2 separate regions of the Homo sapiens genome follow, and region 2 is linked to region 1. Evidence: fine-mapped expression QTL. Tissue or cell type: whole blood. Region 1 holds a variant in brackets; the other region holds the start of a gene. All regions are shown on one strand. Distances are from middle to middle.

What was found. PIP is the estimated chance that this variant, and not a neighbour inherited with it, causes the effect.
Region 2: ABCC1 starts here. The variant in region 1 is fine-mapped to the expression of ABCC1 in whole blood (TOPMed, PIP above 0.99).

What each region holds. Positions count from the first base shown.
Region 1 is chr16:16,114,069-16,122,174 of GRCh38, forward strand. It overlaps ABCC1 (ATP binding cassette subfamily C member 1 (ABCC1 blood group)), which reads left to right. Exons shown (of 31, transcript NM_004996.4): 23 at 698-1,008; 24 at 7,907-8,106. Among named protein-coding and RNA genes, the nearest start is that of ABCC6, 110 kb to the right of the region's middle. The variant C/G (reference allele first, on the strand shown) is at 3,589.
Region 2 is chr16:15,945,605-15,953,710 of GRCh38, forward strand. ABCC1 (ATP binding cassette subfamily C member 1 (ABCC1 blood group)) reads left to right here and starts at 4,012. Exons shown (of 31, transcript NM_004996.4): 1 at 4,012-4,195. The coding sequence starts at 4,148. It overlaps LOC107984869 (a long non-coding RNA gene), which reads right to left and starts at 3,567. Exons shown (of 3, transcript XR_001752339.2): 1 at 3,187-3,567.

The DNA of each region.
Region 1 (8,106 bases):
GTTGGGGACCCCTGGTCTAGAAGAATATGGCATGGGGATTAAGAGCAGGCTGTCTGGATTAAAATCCCAGTTCTGCTTCTGCTAGGCACAGTATACTAAGGGCAAAGGCGTTCACCTATCTGGACTTCAGTTTTCTTATCTGTAAGTTGGGTAGTAATAGAAGTTATTCAGAGTCATCATAAAAATCAGTTACATGTAAAACCCAGCACAGTGCTTAGCACATAGGAAGTACCCTCTGAATAATAGCTGCCATTATCATCATCATTATTATTACTATTTTTTTTTTTTTGAGACGGAGTCTCATTCTGTCGCCCATGTTGGAGTGGAGTGGACGCAGTCTTGGCTCACTGCAACCTCCACCTCCCGGATTCAAGCAATTCCCTTGCCTCAGCCTCCCGAGTAGCTGGGATTACAGGCGCCAACCACCACGCCTGGCTAATTTTTGTATTTTTAGGAGAGACGGAGTTTCACTGTGTTGGCCAGGCTGGTCTCGATCTCCTGACCTCAAGTGATCCACCCACCTCGGCCTCCCAAAGTGCTGGGATTACAGGTGTGAGCCACCATGCCTGGTTCATCATTATTATTATTATTAGAAGTTGGGAGTCCAGGCCTGCCTCGTCCACATGGCCACTCCTCCCTGCAGTGCCTGGTCAGCTCCCTCTCTGCATTGTGGAGTTTTAACTCCGAGTGTCTGCAGGGATCGCCGTGTTTGGCTACTCCATGGCCGTGTCCATCGGGGGGATCTTGGCTTCCCGCTGTCTGCACGTGGACCTGCTGCACAGCATCCTGCGGTCACCCATGAGCTTCTTTGAGCGGACCCCCAGTGGGAACCTGGTGAACCGCTTCTCCAAGGAGCTGGACACAGTGGACTCCATGATCCCGGAGGTCATCAAGATGTTCATGGGCTCCCTGTTCAACGTCATTGGTGCCTGCATCGTTATCCTGCTGGCCACGCCCATCGCCGCCATCATCATCCCGCCCCTTGGCCTCATCTACTTCTTCGTCCAGGTAAGGGGTGAGGTCTTAGTGTTCGGGACAAGCCCTACTGTGCATTATATACCAGTGTTACCTAAAGCCTTGTTTTATCTTACCATGTCCCCAGTGTGGTGCTTTTGAAGCATGTAGATTTGTTTTTGTCAGTTTCGAATACCTAAATTGTTTTTTTGCTCACAATAACAAAATGCACTTTTTTTGTGGAATGCAGTTTTTTCCTAAGTTTTACTTTTCCACCTGTCAATTCAAAAAGGAAACAAAACCTATCACTATAAAGACAACTTCATTATTAAAATTTCTTTTTTTTTCTTGAGACAGAGTCTCGCTCTGTCACCCAGGCTGGAGTGCAGTGGCACAATCTTGGCTTACTGCAACCTCCACCTCCCAGTTCAAGTGATTCCCCTGCCTCAGCCTCCTGAGTTAACAGGTGCGCACCACCACGGCCGGCTAATTTTTGTATTTTTAGTAGAGACAGGGTTTCACCAGTGTTGGCCAGGCTGGTCTCAAACTCCTGAGCTCAGGTGATCCACCCACCTCGACCTCCCCAAGTGTTGGGATTACAGATGTGAGCCACTGCGTCCAGCCTAAAATTTCTTCAAGTATAAAATTCTTTAGTTCTTAAGCCTCCTGCAGGAGGCAGGAACTAAACAAAAAACATGACTAATAGCAGCCTAAATAAGATAGACGTTTTCTTTTTCTCTGTCATAATAGAAATTTAGAGGTAGGCTGTTCAGGGCTGGTATGGCAGCTTCATGAGTTTAATATCCCAGATACCTGCTTTTATTTAAAAATTTAAAAAATCTTACCATATTTATACAAGCCTTTCATTCTTTCTTTCTTTCTTTTTTTTTTTTAATTTGACATGGAGTCTCGCTCTGTCGCCCAGGCTGGAGTGCAGTGGCGCGATCTCGGCTCACTGCAAGCTCCACCTCTCGGGTTCACACCATTCTCCTGCCTCAGCCTCCCGAGTAGCTGGGACTACAGGCGCCCGCCACTACGCCCAGCTAATTTTTTTTGTATTTTCAGTAGAGACAAGGTTTCACCATGTTAGCCAGGATGGTCTCAATCTCCTGACCTCGTGATTCGCCTGCCTCAGCCTCCCAAAGTGCTGGGATTACAGGCGTGAGCCACTGCGCCCGGCCCCTTTCATTCTTAAGTTGGCCTCATGGTCCAAGGTGGCTGCTGGAGCTCCAGCCATTATATCTATATTTCAGTCAGTGAGATCAAGGAAGGGAAGTAGGGCAAGGGAGCATATGGGTGCTGAATCAGCACTACTCCCTTATCTGCAGGCACACATTCTAAGACTCCCCCAATGGATGCCTTAAACTGCAGATAGTATTGAATCCTACATATCCTGTTTTTTTCTGTACATACATACCTATGATAAAGTTTAATTTATAAATTTGGCATAATAGATTAATAGCAGTAATTTATAATAATAAAATAGAACAATTATAACAATATGCCAGTATCACTACTTCTCCACATTAGAGGCGTTATTTTTATTACTTTTTTTTTTGAGACAGAGTTTAGCTGTGTCCTTCAGGCTGGAGTGCAGTGATGGAATCTCGGCTCACTGCAACATCTGCCTCCCGGGTTCAAGTGATTCTCTTGCCTCAGCCTCCCAAGTAGCTGGGATTACAGGCATGCGCCACACCCAGCTAGTTTTTGTATTTTTAGTAGAGACGAGGTTTCACCATGTTGGCCAGGCTAGTCTCAAACTCCTGACGTCAAGTGATCCGCCCGCCTCAGCCTGCCAAAGTGCTGGGATTACAGGCATTGACCCACTGAGCCCAGCCAGGGGCATTATTGAGTAAATTCGGATTACTTACCCATAAGCACTGCAGTACAATGGCCGTCAGTCTGATAACCGATATGGCTATTAAGTGACTAAACTGACAGGGAGGGTCTGCAGCATGGACCTGCTGGACAAAGGGATGATTCACACCGCGGATGGGACTGGGGGGGATTTCATCACACTACTCAGAAGGGTGCACAATTTAAAACTTACACATTATTTTTGGACCACAGTTGACCATGGATAACCGAAACCATGTGTGTTAGTTTGTCCTCATACTGCTATGAAGAAATACCCAATACTGGGTAATTTATTAAGGAAAGAGGTTTAATTGACTCACAGTTCCGCATGGCTGAGGAGGCCATGGCAGAAGGAGAAGCAAACATGTCCTTCTTCACATGGCAGTAGGAAGAAGAATGAGAGCACCACGAAGTCGGGGAGCCCCCTTATAAAACCATCAGATCTTGTGAGAACTAACTCACTATCATGAGGGTTGGGGGAAACTGCCCCCACGATTCAGTTATCTCCACCTGGTCCCTCCCATGACACATGGGGATTAAGGGAACTACAATTCAAGATGAAATTTGGGTGGGGACACAGCCAAACCATATAACCACGGAAAGTGCAACCTTGGATTAGAGGGACACCTGTACATCTAATTGTCCAGAACTTAGTCATGGGACCACCTCTATTCACAAGGGACCCTGGAAAGTGCCGTGTTTTAGCTGGGCACATTGCACTTCCCAGCAAAAACTTTCAGTTGGGCCTAGGCACGGTGGCTCACGCCTGTAACCCTA[C/G]CCCTTTGGGAGGCCGAGGCGCGTGTATCACCTGAAGTCAGGAGTTCGAGAGCAGCCTGACCAATATGGTGAAACCCCACCTCTACTAAAAATACAAAAATTAGCCAGGTGTGGTGGCATGTGCCTATAGTCCCAGCTGCTCTGAAGGCTGAGACAGGAGAATTGCTTGAACCTGGGAGGTGGAGGTTGCAGTGAGCCAAGATTGCATCACTGCAATCCAGCCTGGGCAACAGAGTGATACTCTGTCTAAAAAAAAACAGAGAAGTTTCTGTTGGGAAAGGAGAAATTGTGTAGGCAGTCAGTCGTCTCTGCTGCATCCCTTCTGCAGAAACGGTTATATGTTCTTTGTTCTTTGAACACATGTGGTTTCTTAGGATATCGCAGGATAGATAATGTTTTCAATTGACAGGTGGAGCATCTTGCTAAGTGGGAGAGCTGAGAGTGCAACCTCAAGTCTGTCCAATTCCAAAACTGCTGTTACCGCTAAAGGATTAACCGCAGCACAATTGCCAGTAGGGATGGGTTGTTTAGATGGGAGCATTCCAGCTGCAAAGCAAAACAAGAGTAAGAAACCATGAGGCTCACCATATCTCAAACCACGCTGCACAGCTGTTCAGGTGGCATCCAGGGGGCCTTGGTTCAATCATGTGGCCCCTGCGCCCCACCACACTGTGGCCCAATGATTGATGAGAACGAACAGTGATGGAATCAGAGAGAGTAGGTCCAGTTCCTGGAGTCTCGTTATATCCTCTTGAAATTGGTGCCAGCTTTTTTTTTTTTTTTTTTTTCCCCTGCATTTACCAAATATGTTATCTGTGTTCATACGCAAGCTGGAAAATTTCCTGAAAGACCCAAAAAGAACAAAACAGGCCAAATGCAGTGTTGAAGGCAACTTAAATGTCTGCCAATAGCAGGACCTTGGGTACACCGTGGAGCAATGTGGCTTTGAGCAGGGATAATTAGAAGACGCAGCTGTTGGAGCACCAAGGATTTTTATTTTTCAACAACAAAGGAAATGATTTTAGCAAAGGACCAAGTTCTAGGTGCACTGTCGTTATCACCGAGATGAAATGCATAATGTGTGTGGGCAGGACTGGAAGGGAGGCAGATACATGAAAACATCGTCTTTTTAAGGGTTGAGATTATAGAATAGTTAATTTTTTAATGGCTTTTGGCTAAATTTACATTTATCCTCTCACTAGGCAGTCTCATTCCTAAGTGTATATTAAAAAAAAAAAAAAAAAAAAAAGAGCAAAGGCAGTGCTTAGAATGTTCTCAGCATCTTGATTCATAATCGCCCAAACTGGAAACAGCTCAAATGTCCATTAACAGGACCGTGGAGAAATAAATTGTGATATAATTATACAATTTATGGTTGAGTAGTAAAAAGGAATGAAATGCTAATACACAACAATTTGGGTTTATCTCAGAGATGTTATAGTGATCAAAAGAAGCCAGACGAAAAAGAGTAGGTACTGTGAGATTTCATTTATATGAAGTTCGGTCGGGTGCAGTGGCTCATGCCTTTAATCCCAGCCCTTTGGGAGGCCTAGACAGGAGGATTGCTTGGGCCCAGGAGTTCGAGACCAGCCTGAGCAACATGGGAAAACCTGGTCTCTACAGAAAATACAAAAATTAGCTGGGTGTGGTGGCGTGAACCTGTAGTCCCACCTGCTTGGGAGGCTGAGATGGAAGGGTCACTTGAGCCTCGGAGGCGGAGGTTGCAGTGAGCTGACATTGTGCCAGTGCACTTCAGCCTTGGTGACAGGGCGAGTTGTCTGAAAAAAACATCAGATCGGCAGGGCAGGTGGATCACCTGAGGTCAGGAGTTTGAGACCAGCCTGGCCAACATGGTGAAACCCCATCTCTACTAAAAATAGAAAAATTAGCCAGGCACGGTGGTGGGCGCCTGCAATTCCAGCTACTTAGGAGGCTAAGGCAGGAGAATTGCTTGAACCTGGGAGGCAGAGGTTGCAATGAGCCAAGATTGTGCCACTGCACTCCAGCCAGGGTGACAGAGCGAGACTGTCTTAAAAAATAAAATAAGATCATTCCTGAACAAATATTCATCTCAGGTTAGATTTTTCCAGTAAGTAAGGTTCAGAGGCAGTGGCAAGTGGAGGAAAGTGAACAGGTAACACACTTGAGAGCGATTTGCATCTGGATTGTTCAGAAAGCAAGCTGGTAAGAGAGGAAGGAGATGTGGTCCAGGGTAAGATGGGGCAGATCACCTGGGCCTTCAGCCATGCAGAGGGGTCTGGATTTCATGGGAGGCGGTGGGAACAGCTGGAGAAGAAATTATATCTGATCCACATTCCAGGAATTGGCAGAACAGCTATTCTGAGACTGCGTGGGGTTGTGCGGTACCTGGGTTCACTTACATAGCTTCTGGGGCCCCAGAAGACTCTCCATCTGTGGGTTGCAATTAACGCCCGTGCCGCCACCCAGGAAGAAGCTGCCAACCACAGAGGCCTTGTAAAAGCCACCTGCTGCTATTGATGCTTTTTGTTGGACTCTGCCCCAAAGCAGCCCAGTACACCTGGCCCAGGGCAGGATGCAGGGAGGCCGAGTTCCTAGCAACCCTTTGTTAGTTTTCCCAGCTCTCCTGTCGATAAGCAATTGTAGGCACCTTGTGGAATCAGGAACCCCGGGCTCACCAGTTCCTTTTGCGTAGATGAGAAAAACCTAGGCTAGGAGAGCGCAGTGTCCTCACATGGCTGGTGCAGCCTCTGATCCACAGCTCCACAAAGCTTGCAGAAGGTGGTTGGCTTTTGTTCTGAATCTAACAAGACTTATCGGGAGGCTCTTGGTGCCTGGCACTGGCTGAATGCCCAGGTTGGGGGAGGCAGAGCAGATGAAGCATCTGCCCGCGAGGGTGGGTGGAGCTGCTTGTGAAACGTATCATCGTAGCCCGGGAGCTGGGACACTGAAGCCCGGAGAAGGTGCTCATGGAGGATGGGAAGGGCTTCCCGAGGAAGTGACATCTGTGCTCCCATCTGCTGGGTGATGAGGAATGGCCTGGACGGGATGGGCATGGTGGGTGGAGGCAGGCGGCCTGTGTGCAGGGAAGGAAGGGGAGAGTTACAGGATGAGATGAGTTGAGGGAAGAAGCATGGTTGGCAACTCTAACAGCGCTGGGAGGCCATCGGAGGGGGGTGACGAGATTGACCCTATCCTCATGGGCATCTCAGCTGGGCTGAGTGTGCTGGAACCGGCCATTGCATGGACACAGTCACTCCTGAGGGGATGTGATCAACAGGCGGAATTCTGTCACTTAATGATAACAATAGTCACCAGCTAACTGAATGCTTACTGTTAGGTCAAACTATATGAAACTGCTAATACTTATTTCTTATCTACAGAAACAGCTATTTCCTGTGGTTCAACCTAGTATTACCAGGCACTGTGCTTAGTGACATCATGCATATCTATATGATTTATGAAATAATGTGTCCACGCAAATACACATCACATGTAAGACTGTAACTCTTACATGTCACCCTCACAATGACCCCGTGAAGCAAGCTTTGTTTTGTTTCGTTTGTTTTCTTAATAATATTTTATTTTTGTAGAGATGGCATTTTGCCATGTGCCTGGGCTGGTCTCAGACTCCTGGCCTCAAGTGATCTCCCGCCTCTGCCTCCTGAAGTGCGGGTATTACAAGCATGAGCCACCCCACCTGGCCGAGCAAGCCTTGTTGTTCCCATTTTACAGATAAGGAAACTGAGGCTTAGAGAAGTAAAGTGTTAGTCGTGTTTATATTGCCAGTCAGTAGTTGAGTCAGGATTTGAACTGAGGTCTCGTTGACCTCAAAGCCTATGCTGAAAACCACACTGCTGGTTCCAGAAAACCCTAGAGGTGAAAGGCTTCAGAGAGGCAGTACAGGGTAGAGGTTAGCACTTTGCAGCCCAGATGGCCTGGGTTTGAATCCCAGTTCTGCCCCTTGCTAGCCATGTGACCTTGGGGAGGAGATTAACTAGCTTCTTTGTGCCTTAGTCTACCCATCACATATAGGAATGAGCACCTCAGGTTTTTTGTGAGGATTGAATGAACTGATGTTTGTAAAACTGCTTAGAACGATGCCTGGGGCTGTGGGCTTTGTATAAGCGTGAGCTATTATTGTCACTGTCCTTGTCATTGGTGGTGCTATTCCTGTGGTTCACCAGGTGAGTGGGCACCCCTGTGAGGGCAGCCCGGCTCTAACATTTTGCCTCCTGGAGGTATCGGTTACGTCTAGATGTTCTCCAGCACAGCCCTGCCCTGGGAGGATGGCAGGAGGGAACCTTCATCAACTCCCCGCGTCTGTTCTCTACCCCAGAGGTTCTACGTGGCTTCCTCCCGGCAGCTGAAGCGCCTCGAGTCGGTCAGCCGCTCCCCGGTCTATTCCCATTTCAACGAGACCTTGCTGGGGGTCAGCGTCATTCGAGCCTTCGAGGAGCAGGAGCGCTTCATCCACCAGAGTGACCTGAAGGTGGACGAGAACCAGAAGGCCTATTACCCCAGCATCGTGGCCAACAG
Region 2 (8,106 bases), 170 kb before region 1:
TCATACATATTGTTGCTATTATGAACATTTTTTGTAGATGTGTTTTGGTGGATGTAAGCTCACCTTTCTTTTGGAGGCGAGTGGAATTTCTGTGTCACTATGTAATTGTATGTTTCACTTTAGCACGAATTATTAGTTTTCTTTCTTTTTTGGAGATGGAGTCTCACTCTGTCACCTAGGCTGGAGTGAAGTGGTGCGATCTTGGCTCAGAGCAACCTGTGCCTCCTGGGTTCAAGTGAGTGTTGTGCCTCAGCTCCCCAAGTAGCTGAGACTATAGGCATGTGCCACAACGCCCAGCTAATTTTATTTTATTTTATTTTACTTTTGAGACAGAGTCTCACTCTGTCGCCCAGGCTGGAGCGCGGTGGCGCGATCTTAGCTCACTGCAACCTGCGCCTCCCAGGTTCAAGCAGTTCTCCTGCCTTAGCCTCCCGAGTAGCTCGGATTACAGGCATGTGCCACCATGCCTGGCTAATTTTTTTGTATTGTTAATAGAGATGGGGTTTCCTCATGTCAGCCAGGCTGGTCTTGAACTCCTGAGCTCAGGCAATCCACCCACCTTGGCCCACCTTTTTGTATTTTTTGTAGAGATGGGGTTTCACCATGTTGCTCAGGCTGGTCTCAATCTCCTGAGCTCAAGAGATCCACCTGCCTCGGCCACCCAAAGTGCTGGGATTACAGGCATGAGCCACTGCACCCAGCCAAATTGTTAGTTTTCCAAAGTAGTTAAGCCAATTTATATACCTCCCAACAGAGCGTGCCTTTTCCAGTTAATCCACGTCTTTGTCTGCACTCGTAATTTTCAGTCTTTGTTTCCAGTCACTCTGGTGGGTGTATGATGGTATTTCACTGGGGTTTTATTTGCATTTCCCTGATGACTAATGAAGTTGAGCATGTTTTCATGTGCTTGCTCAATAAATATTTGTTGAAAGGATGAATAAAGAGTGAATGAATAAAACATGGAAAGAAATCCAACTCTGTCTTGTGCCCTGCCTAAAACCCACCAGTGGTTCCCACTGCCCCTCCTTTGGCCGACGGGTACCTGCCTGCCCTGGCTCCTTCTGACCCCACCTGCTCCGGATGGATTTCTTTTGCTTCTTCTCTGGGTTCCTGCCATCCAGGCTGTCTTCAGTTTCCTCCAAGGACCCTCCCTGCTTCATAACTTTGCTATAAACTGTTTTCTTCTGCCCAGAACACAACCCAGGCCCAAGGAACCCAGACGCGTTCCTTGTATCTCAGTTTGAAAGCCTCTTCCTCCAGGAAGCCTTCTCTGACTTCCACCCCCCAGCAAGGGTGGTATAAATTGCTAACTTAGGCCCACTTTTGCCCACTTTTTTTGTTTGTGTTTTTGAGATGGAGTCACACTTTGTCGTCCAGGCTGGAGTGCAGTGGGGCCATCTCAGCTCACTGCAACCTCCATCTCCTGGGTTCAAGTGATTCTCCTGCCTTAGCTTCCTGAATAGCTGGGATTACAGGCACCCACCACCATGTCCAGCTAATTTTTGTATTTTTACATTTATTTATTTATTTATTTGAGATAGAGTATTGCTTTGTCGCCCAGGCTGGAGTGCAGTGGCATGATCTTGGCTTACTGCAACCTCCGCCTCCCAGGTTCAAGTGATTCTCCTGCCTCAGCCTCCCGAGTAGCTGAGCCTGCAGGTGCCTGCCACCACACCCAGCTAATTTTTGTATTTTTAGTAGAGATGGGGTTTTACCATCGGTCAGACTGGTCTCGAACTCCTGACCTTAAGTGATCTGCCTGCCTTGGCCTCCCAAAGTGCTGGGATTACAGGCGTGAGCCACCATGCCCGGCCACCACTTTTTTTTTCTAGCTGTGACCATAGTTGTACATATCTCCCCTTCCCTGGCTTTTTTTTTTGTTTTTTTTTTCCTGAGACAGGATCTCGCTGTGTTACCCAGGCTGCAGTGCAGCGGTGCAATCATAGCTCACTGTAGCCTTGAACTCCTGGGCCAAATGAGCCTCCCACCTCGGCCTCCCAAAGCACTGAGATTACATGCGTGAGTCACTACTTCTGGCCTGTAAATACCCTTTCAAAAATATAATATTTGATTAACATCTGCCATCTTACCATAAGAAACACTTAAAAAAATCCCAATCCAAAAAAATTCCAATCCTTTAAGCTATATAAGAGTAGCAATTTTATCTTGTTCCTAGCAAGACATCTGGCATATAGTAAATGCTCAATAAATATTTGTTGACAGTATAAAGGTCAAGCAACAGCATAACTGGCATTATTACATGAAAGTAATTATCCCTTAGAAACTCATTCACCCTTGGGGGACCCGGGCCAATAAAAAAATCACAGAAAACAATCCTATCTACCTTCCTCCTTCCTCCTTCCCTCGCTAGGTCCTTTGATTGGGGGGAGGTCTCAAATGCACACACTGTTTCTGTTTTATTTGGTGCAGCTGTTGTGTGCATGTGTTATGGAAACCCACATCAGGCAGGAGATTAAGGAGGAGAGGAGAAAAGAAAGGCATCGCTGGTATCACAGTGAAATTTACACTCTGCGGCCTCGCCCTAGCTCCTCTGTCTCTACCTGTCTGCCTATGAAACAGTTCAAAACTAATATGGCGCAATGGATGGTATTATAGACTTCCCACCTCCCTGGCCAGACTTCTTGGGTTCAAAGTTTGGCTTAATCACTTACCATCTAAATAATCCCTGACAATGTACTCTGTCTTTCTGGGCCTTAGTGGCCTCATCTGCAAAATGGGGATAATACTACTTCTTACCTCATGGGGTTGTGAGGATTGCACAAGTTAATTTGTGTAAATTGCTAAGAACACAGCCTTAGGAAGCCTTGTCACTGTGAATGCATATTAATTTTTTTTATTATTATTTTTTGAGACAGAGTCTTGCTCTGTTGCCCAGGCTGGAGTGCAGTGGTGTGATCTAAGCTCATTTCAACCTCCGCCTCCCAGGTTCAAGTGATTCTCCTGTTTCAGCTTCTCAAGTAGCTGGGACTACAGGTGCCCGCCACCATGCCCGGCTAATTTTTGTGTTTTTAGTAGAGACAGGGTTTTGCTATGTTGGCTAGGCTGGTCTTGAACTCCTGACCTTATGTGATCGGCCCGCCTCGGCTTCCCAAAGTGCTTGATTACAAGCACGAGCCACCATGCCTGGCCTACGATTATCATGTCTCCAGGCTTCAGTTTCCTTACCTCTGAGGTGAGGATCAATAACCTGGTTATTTCTAAGTGATGCTTAAAGAGGTTGAGAAGAAGCAAAGGCGCTCTGCACACAGGTGAGGTCAACAGCTGTTAGTGATGGAGACTGGCGCCGTCTGGGTCATCAGTGCTCCGGAATCAGGCTGCTCACGGGTTTGAATCTCACTTCCACTTTCACTCCTTATTAACTGTGTGACCTCGGGCAAGTCACTTCGCCTTTCTGAACCTCAGTTTCCCCATCTGTAAAAGGTAGGTGAATAACAGTATTCACCTCCTTCTGTGTGACTCAGCTTTGGAGTCAGCGGACCGGGTTCAAATCCCAGCCCTGCAAGTGATTAGCCAGGTGACCCTGGGCAGAGGGAATCACTCAACCTCTCTGCACCTGGGTTTCTTCCTTCATGAACGTGGAGACTTTACAGGATGAAATGAGGGCACAGTTAAGGCGCCCGGTACACTCCAGGCAGGTAGGGGGCTCCGTTCACGTTATTTTCCCCTGGTGACGGATACTGTCCTTAAACAGCATTTGAAAAGTGGTCGCAGGGTGTGTGGCCCCAAAGATCCCAGGCGCTTCCGGAAGGCGAGCCAACGCTCCCCAGGCCCGTCCGCGAGCGGGTGGGCCTAAGCCTTGGAGGATCTGGGGTGGGGGTGGCGCGGGGTCCAGGCCCGGGGCGCCGAGAGGTGGCTGGTCCGGCTGCCCACGCCGAGACGCGCGAGGTGAGCGGGCGCCGGGGCGGGGCGGGGTGGGGCGGGGCCGCCGCATCCCCGTGACGCGCGGGCCAACCAGGCGGCGTTGCGGCCCCGGCCCCGGCTCCCTGCGCCGCCGCCGCCGCCGCCGCCAGCGCTAGCGCCAGCAGCCGGGCCCGATCACCCGCCGCCCGGTGCCCGCCGCCGCCCGCGCCAGCAACCGGGCCCGATCACCCGCCGCCCGGTGCCCGCCGCCGCCCGCGCCACCGGCATGGCGCTCCGGGGCTTCTGCAGCGCCGATGGCTCCGACCCGCTCTGGGTACGTGCCGGGGGCCGCGTGAGGCCGGCGGGACGGAGGGAGGCCGGCGGGGAGGGAAAGCACCGGGCCCGCAGCCGCCCGGGGCACCCCGCTCCCCGCTCTGCTGCCGGCCTCGGGGGCCCGGGACCCTCACGTCGCCCGCGGCCCAGCCCCTTTCGGGGGTGCAAGGCATGGGGGAAACTTGGGTGACTCAGTTCCTGCGGAGCAGAGCGTGGGGGGCCGCGTGCCCAGCCCTGGGGTTTTGGAGGGTCGGGTCGGGTCAGAGCCGCCGTGAGGAGGCCTTCCTGTTTTGGGGTTCCCGTCTGTAAAAACAACCTTCCAGGGAAGGGGACGCTAGAGATGGGGGGCGGGAAGAGGGGTGTCTCTCTGCTTCTGTTTTCCCATCTTTTTTGTGGTTAGGGTCCCCCCTTTTCACGAAAAATACTCCGTGACCAACGGGGTGAGCTGGGGAGGGGCTTAGATTGTAGAAAGGGACTTTCATTGTCTCCCCAAAGTTGTCGTACAAGCCACATTACTCTTCTGTGGTTACCTAGCTTTGTTTTTTTTGTTCTTTCTACTTAGATACTGCGGGGGAAGTTTGGGGGAACCAGGGAAGAAGGGGGATGTCCACCCTTGATGTGCCCTACCTGACCCTCGGCTCGGGGCAGACTTGGGGTGCAGCTGAGGACGCCCAGGACCCTGGTAGCTGTGGTCCTGCCCTCCCTTCCCTGCAACACGTGGAGCTCCTCTCTGGGGATGCCCCTTAGATTTAACCCCGGCAAGTTTTCTTCTGTAACGTGGCCTGCGGAGCCTGACTGGGTGTCTGGAGTCCACTTGCTGTGGTTTAAGCCCCAGTCTTTTGGGCTTCAGCTTCTCCGTAATGCGATTTGCCTCTTTGTTCCAGGAAGGCAGGCACTTCTGTCTCGTGCTGTCTTGATTGTTGGTGAACGCAGTAGGCAAATCTGGACACGACTGTTTCTCTCTCCTCTTTTGTTTAGGAATCAGGAGAAACAGCCTTGGTTCTTAGGAGCTGGTGATCAGCTTCCAAAAATACTTTCTTGTCCTGTTTTGCCGGCCTTTCCTCGAGGGTTGCATTTGGAGTGTTGAAAAGTCATCCTCCAGGGCCCCATTGGAGGGTTTGGTTTTGTTTGTTTGTTTTTTTTAGTAGGGTATCATTGTGTTTAATAACCTACCACACTTTGATATATCTCCCATTTTAAGCCAGTGGGGTTGGAGAGTAACCCCAGGGGTGGAAATAGAACACAGACTTTGCCTTGAGGGTCTGGGGGTGATTGGAGCCTCTTTGCAGATGGACTTTCTTTAGCAGGGGAAAACCTGTGGCTTCCTTGTTGCCAGGTGTAGTAACAGCAAGATTATTTTTTGCAAAGATTCACATGGTGATCTGGGTTTGTGTTGCTGTGAATTCCAGAATATTCTCTTGTTTATTTTCTTCTGAATTGAGGAGGGGGCAAAACAGGGTGAACATCCATGAGGTTTTGTATCAGGACGTATTTTATTGATGGCAATTGGTAGTTGATGGCTAATGAGTATGTTTGGGGTGCGCTTTGTTTATCTTAAGAAACTCATTCACGAAGTCCAGTTGTAATATTTTTTAAAATTTTTATTTTCTTTTTTCTTTTTATTTTTTCCTTCGTTAAGGACTTTCTGCCACAGAAATTGCCAGGTGGTTGGGTTTTGCTTGGGGGTAATTGTAGCTGATCTCTGCCTCTGGTAGGTACCCCATCCCCGTGTTTGACCTTGCGTATTTCTGCTGTCTGGATTCCAAGACTTGTTGGAGGTGCCTTGGAACCAGAATTTGAGAGGAGGCAACTGGGGCCTGAGTGGGAAAATTGAAATATAATTAACTGAAAGCTAGAAAGTAGGTAGTTGTTGCTTTTTTCTTTTCTTTTTTTTTTCTTTTTCTTTTTTGAGACAGAGTCTTGCTCTGTCACCCAGGCTGGAGTGCAGTGGCACGATCTCAGCTTACTGCAATCTCTGCCTCCCCGGCTCAAGTGGTCCTCCTAACTCAGCCTCCCAAGTACCTGGGACTATAGGCGTGTGCCACCACGCCCAGCTAATTTTTGTATTTTTTATAGAGACAGATTCGCACTATATTGCCCAGGCTGGTCTCCTACTCCTGGGCTCAAGCGATCCTCCTGCCTTGGCCTCCAAAAGTGTTGAGATTACAGGCATGGGCCTCTGTGCCCGGCTGTTTTTGTGTTTTTCAAGGTAGCGTGTCCGAGGCCAGGAGCGACTGGCCTCCCAGGCAGTCAGATAACTGTGTGACCTTGAGCAAGCCACTTTCCCTCTGTGTGCCTCACTTTCCTCATCTCTAAAATTGGACAGGAGCCAAAAATGTGGCAGCCTTCTTGGGTTGTTGCGAAGGGTCAATGAGTTAATCTTGTAAGTGGCTCAGCTTGTGCCCTGCACGGAGATAAACAATGGTTAGTATTAAATATTATTTTTTCCAAAGATGAAGTTGTGTGTTTTAAGCTCCTTGTTCTTCCTTTGGATTCCCCTTTTCTTCAGCTGGTGGAGATGGGATTGGGCTGTGAAAAGGCAGTGAGGCACCCGTGCCTGGCTCCTGTTGTGACCAAGGTCATGTGCTTAGAAGTCAAGGTCAGTGGGCCTCGGGTGACTCTGTCAGAGCTTTGTTTCTGGGCTACTGTCTGCCTCTGAGCCGCAGGAAATGTCCAGAAAACCCAGAAGATGGAAATGGCCCATGATAAGTGTTCTGTTGACCTTTACTCAGACAGATGCTCTGGGAAGAGAAAAGGAGAACTTTGCTATCAAAACGGAAAATAGGGCCTGAGGACAGGTCACAGCAGCCCTTGGCTTTCTTTTCTCATGGGGGTGGGACTGGTAGGAGGCGCTGCTTTGTGGTTGATATTGGCATGATGGTTGGAAAAATGGGCCTGGGACTTTTTGTGAGTTCATTAAAAAAAAAAAAAAAAAAAAAAAAAAAAGCAGGCCGGGTGCAGTGGCTCACGCCTGTAATCCCAGCACTTTGGGAGGCTGAGGCAGGCGGATTGCTTGAGGTCAGGAGTTCGAGACCAGCCTAGGCAACATGGATTGACCCCCGTCTCTACTAATAATACCAAAAAAAAAAAAAAAGCCTGGCATGGTGGTGTGGCACCTGTGGTCCCGGCTACTAGGGAGGCTGAGGCACTAGAATCACTTGAAGGCTGTGGGGGTGGAGGTTGCAATGAGCTGAGATCACGGTCACTGCACTCCAGTCTGGGCCACAGACTGAGACCCTGTCTCAAAAAAAAGAGGGCCGGGTGTAGTAGATCATGCCTGTAATCCCAGCACTTTGGGAGGCCAAGGCAGGCGGATCACCTGAGGTCAGGGGTTCAAGACCAGCCTGACCAACATGGCAAAACCCCATCCCTACTAAAAATACAAAAATTAGCTGGGCCTGGTGATTCACGCCTGTAATTCCAGCTACTTGGGAGGCTGAGGCAGGAGAATTGCTTGAACCTGGGAAGAGGTTGCAGTGAGCTGAGATCACATCACTGCACTCCAACCTGGGCGACAGAGAGACTGTCTCAAAAGAAAAAAAAAATTGTGCTTCAGGCCCTGTGTAGAAAAATTGGAAATTATGGAAAAGCAGAGGAAACAACTTGGTATTAAGCAGTATAGTGTGGTGGCTCAGAGCAAATTCGCCTCTGCTGCTGAGGCAGGTTACGTCATCTCTCCGTGCCTCAGTTTCCCTATGTGGGATAACGTAGTACCTAGTGAATAGCGGTGACTTGAGGAATAAGTGAGTTAATCCTTAGCAAGGACTTAAAATGTTGCTGCTTGGCACACAGCGCTCAGTAAAGATCAGTGGTCGTTGCCACCTGGAATTCTCCAGTTAATTTTTGCTGTTGCACCAACTGCCACTGGAGAAGACCAGAAGGAAGCTGCAGGTGTGTGTCACCGTCGATGGA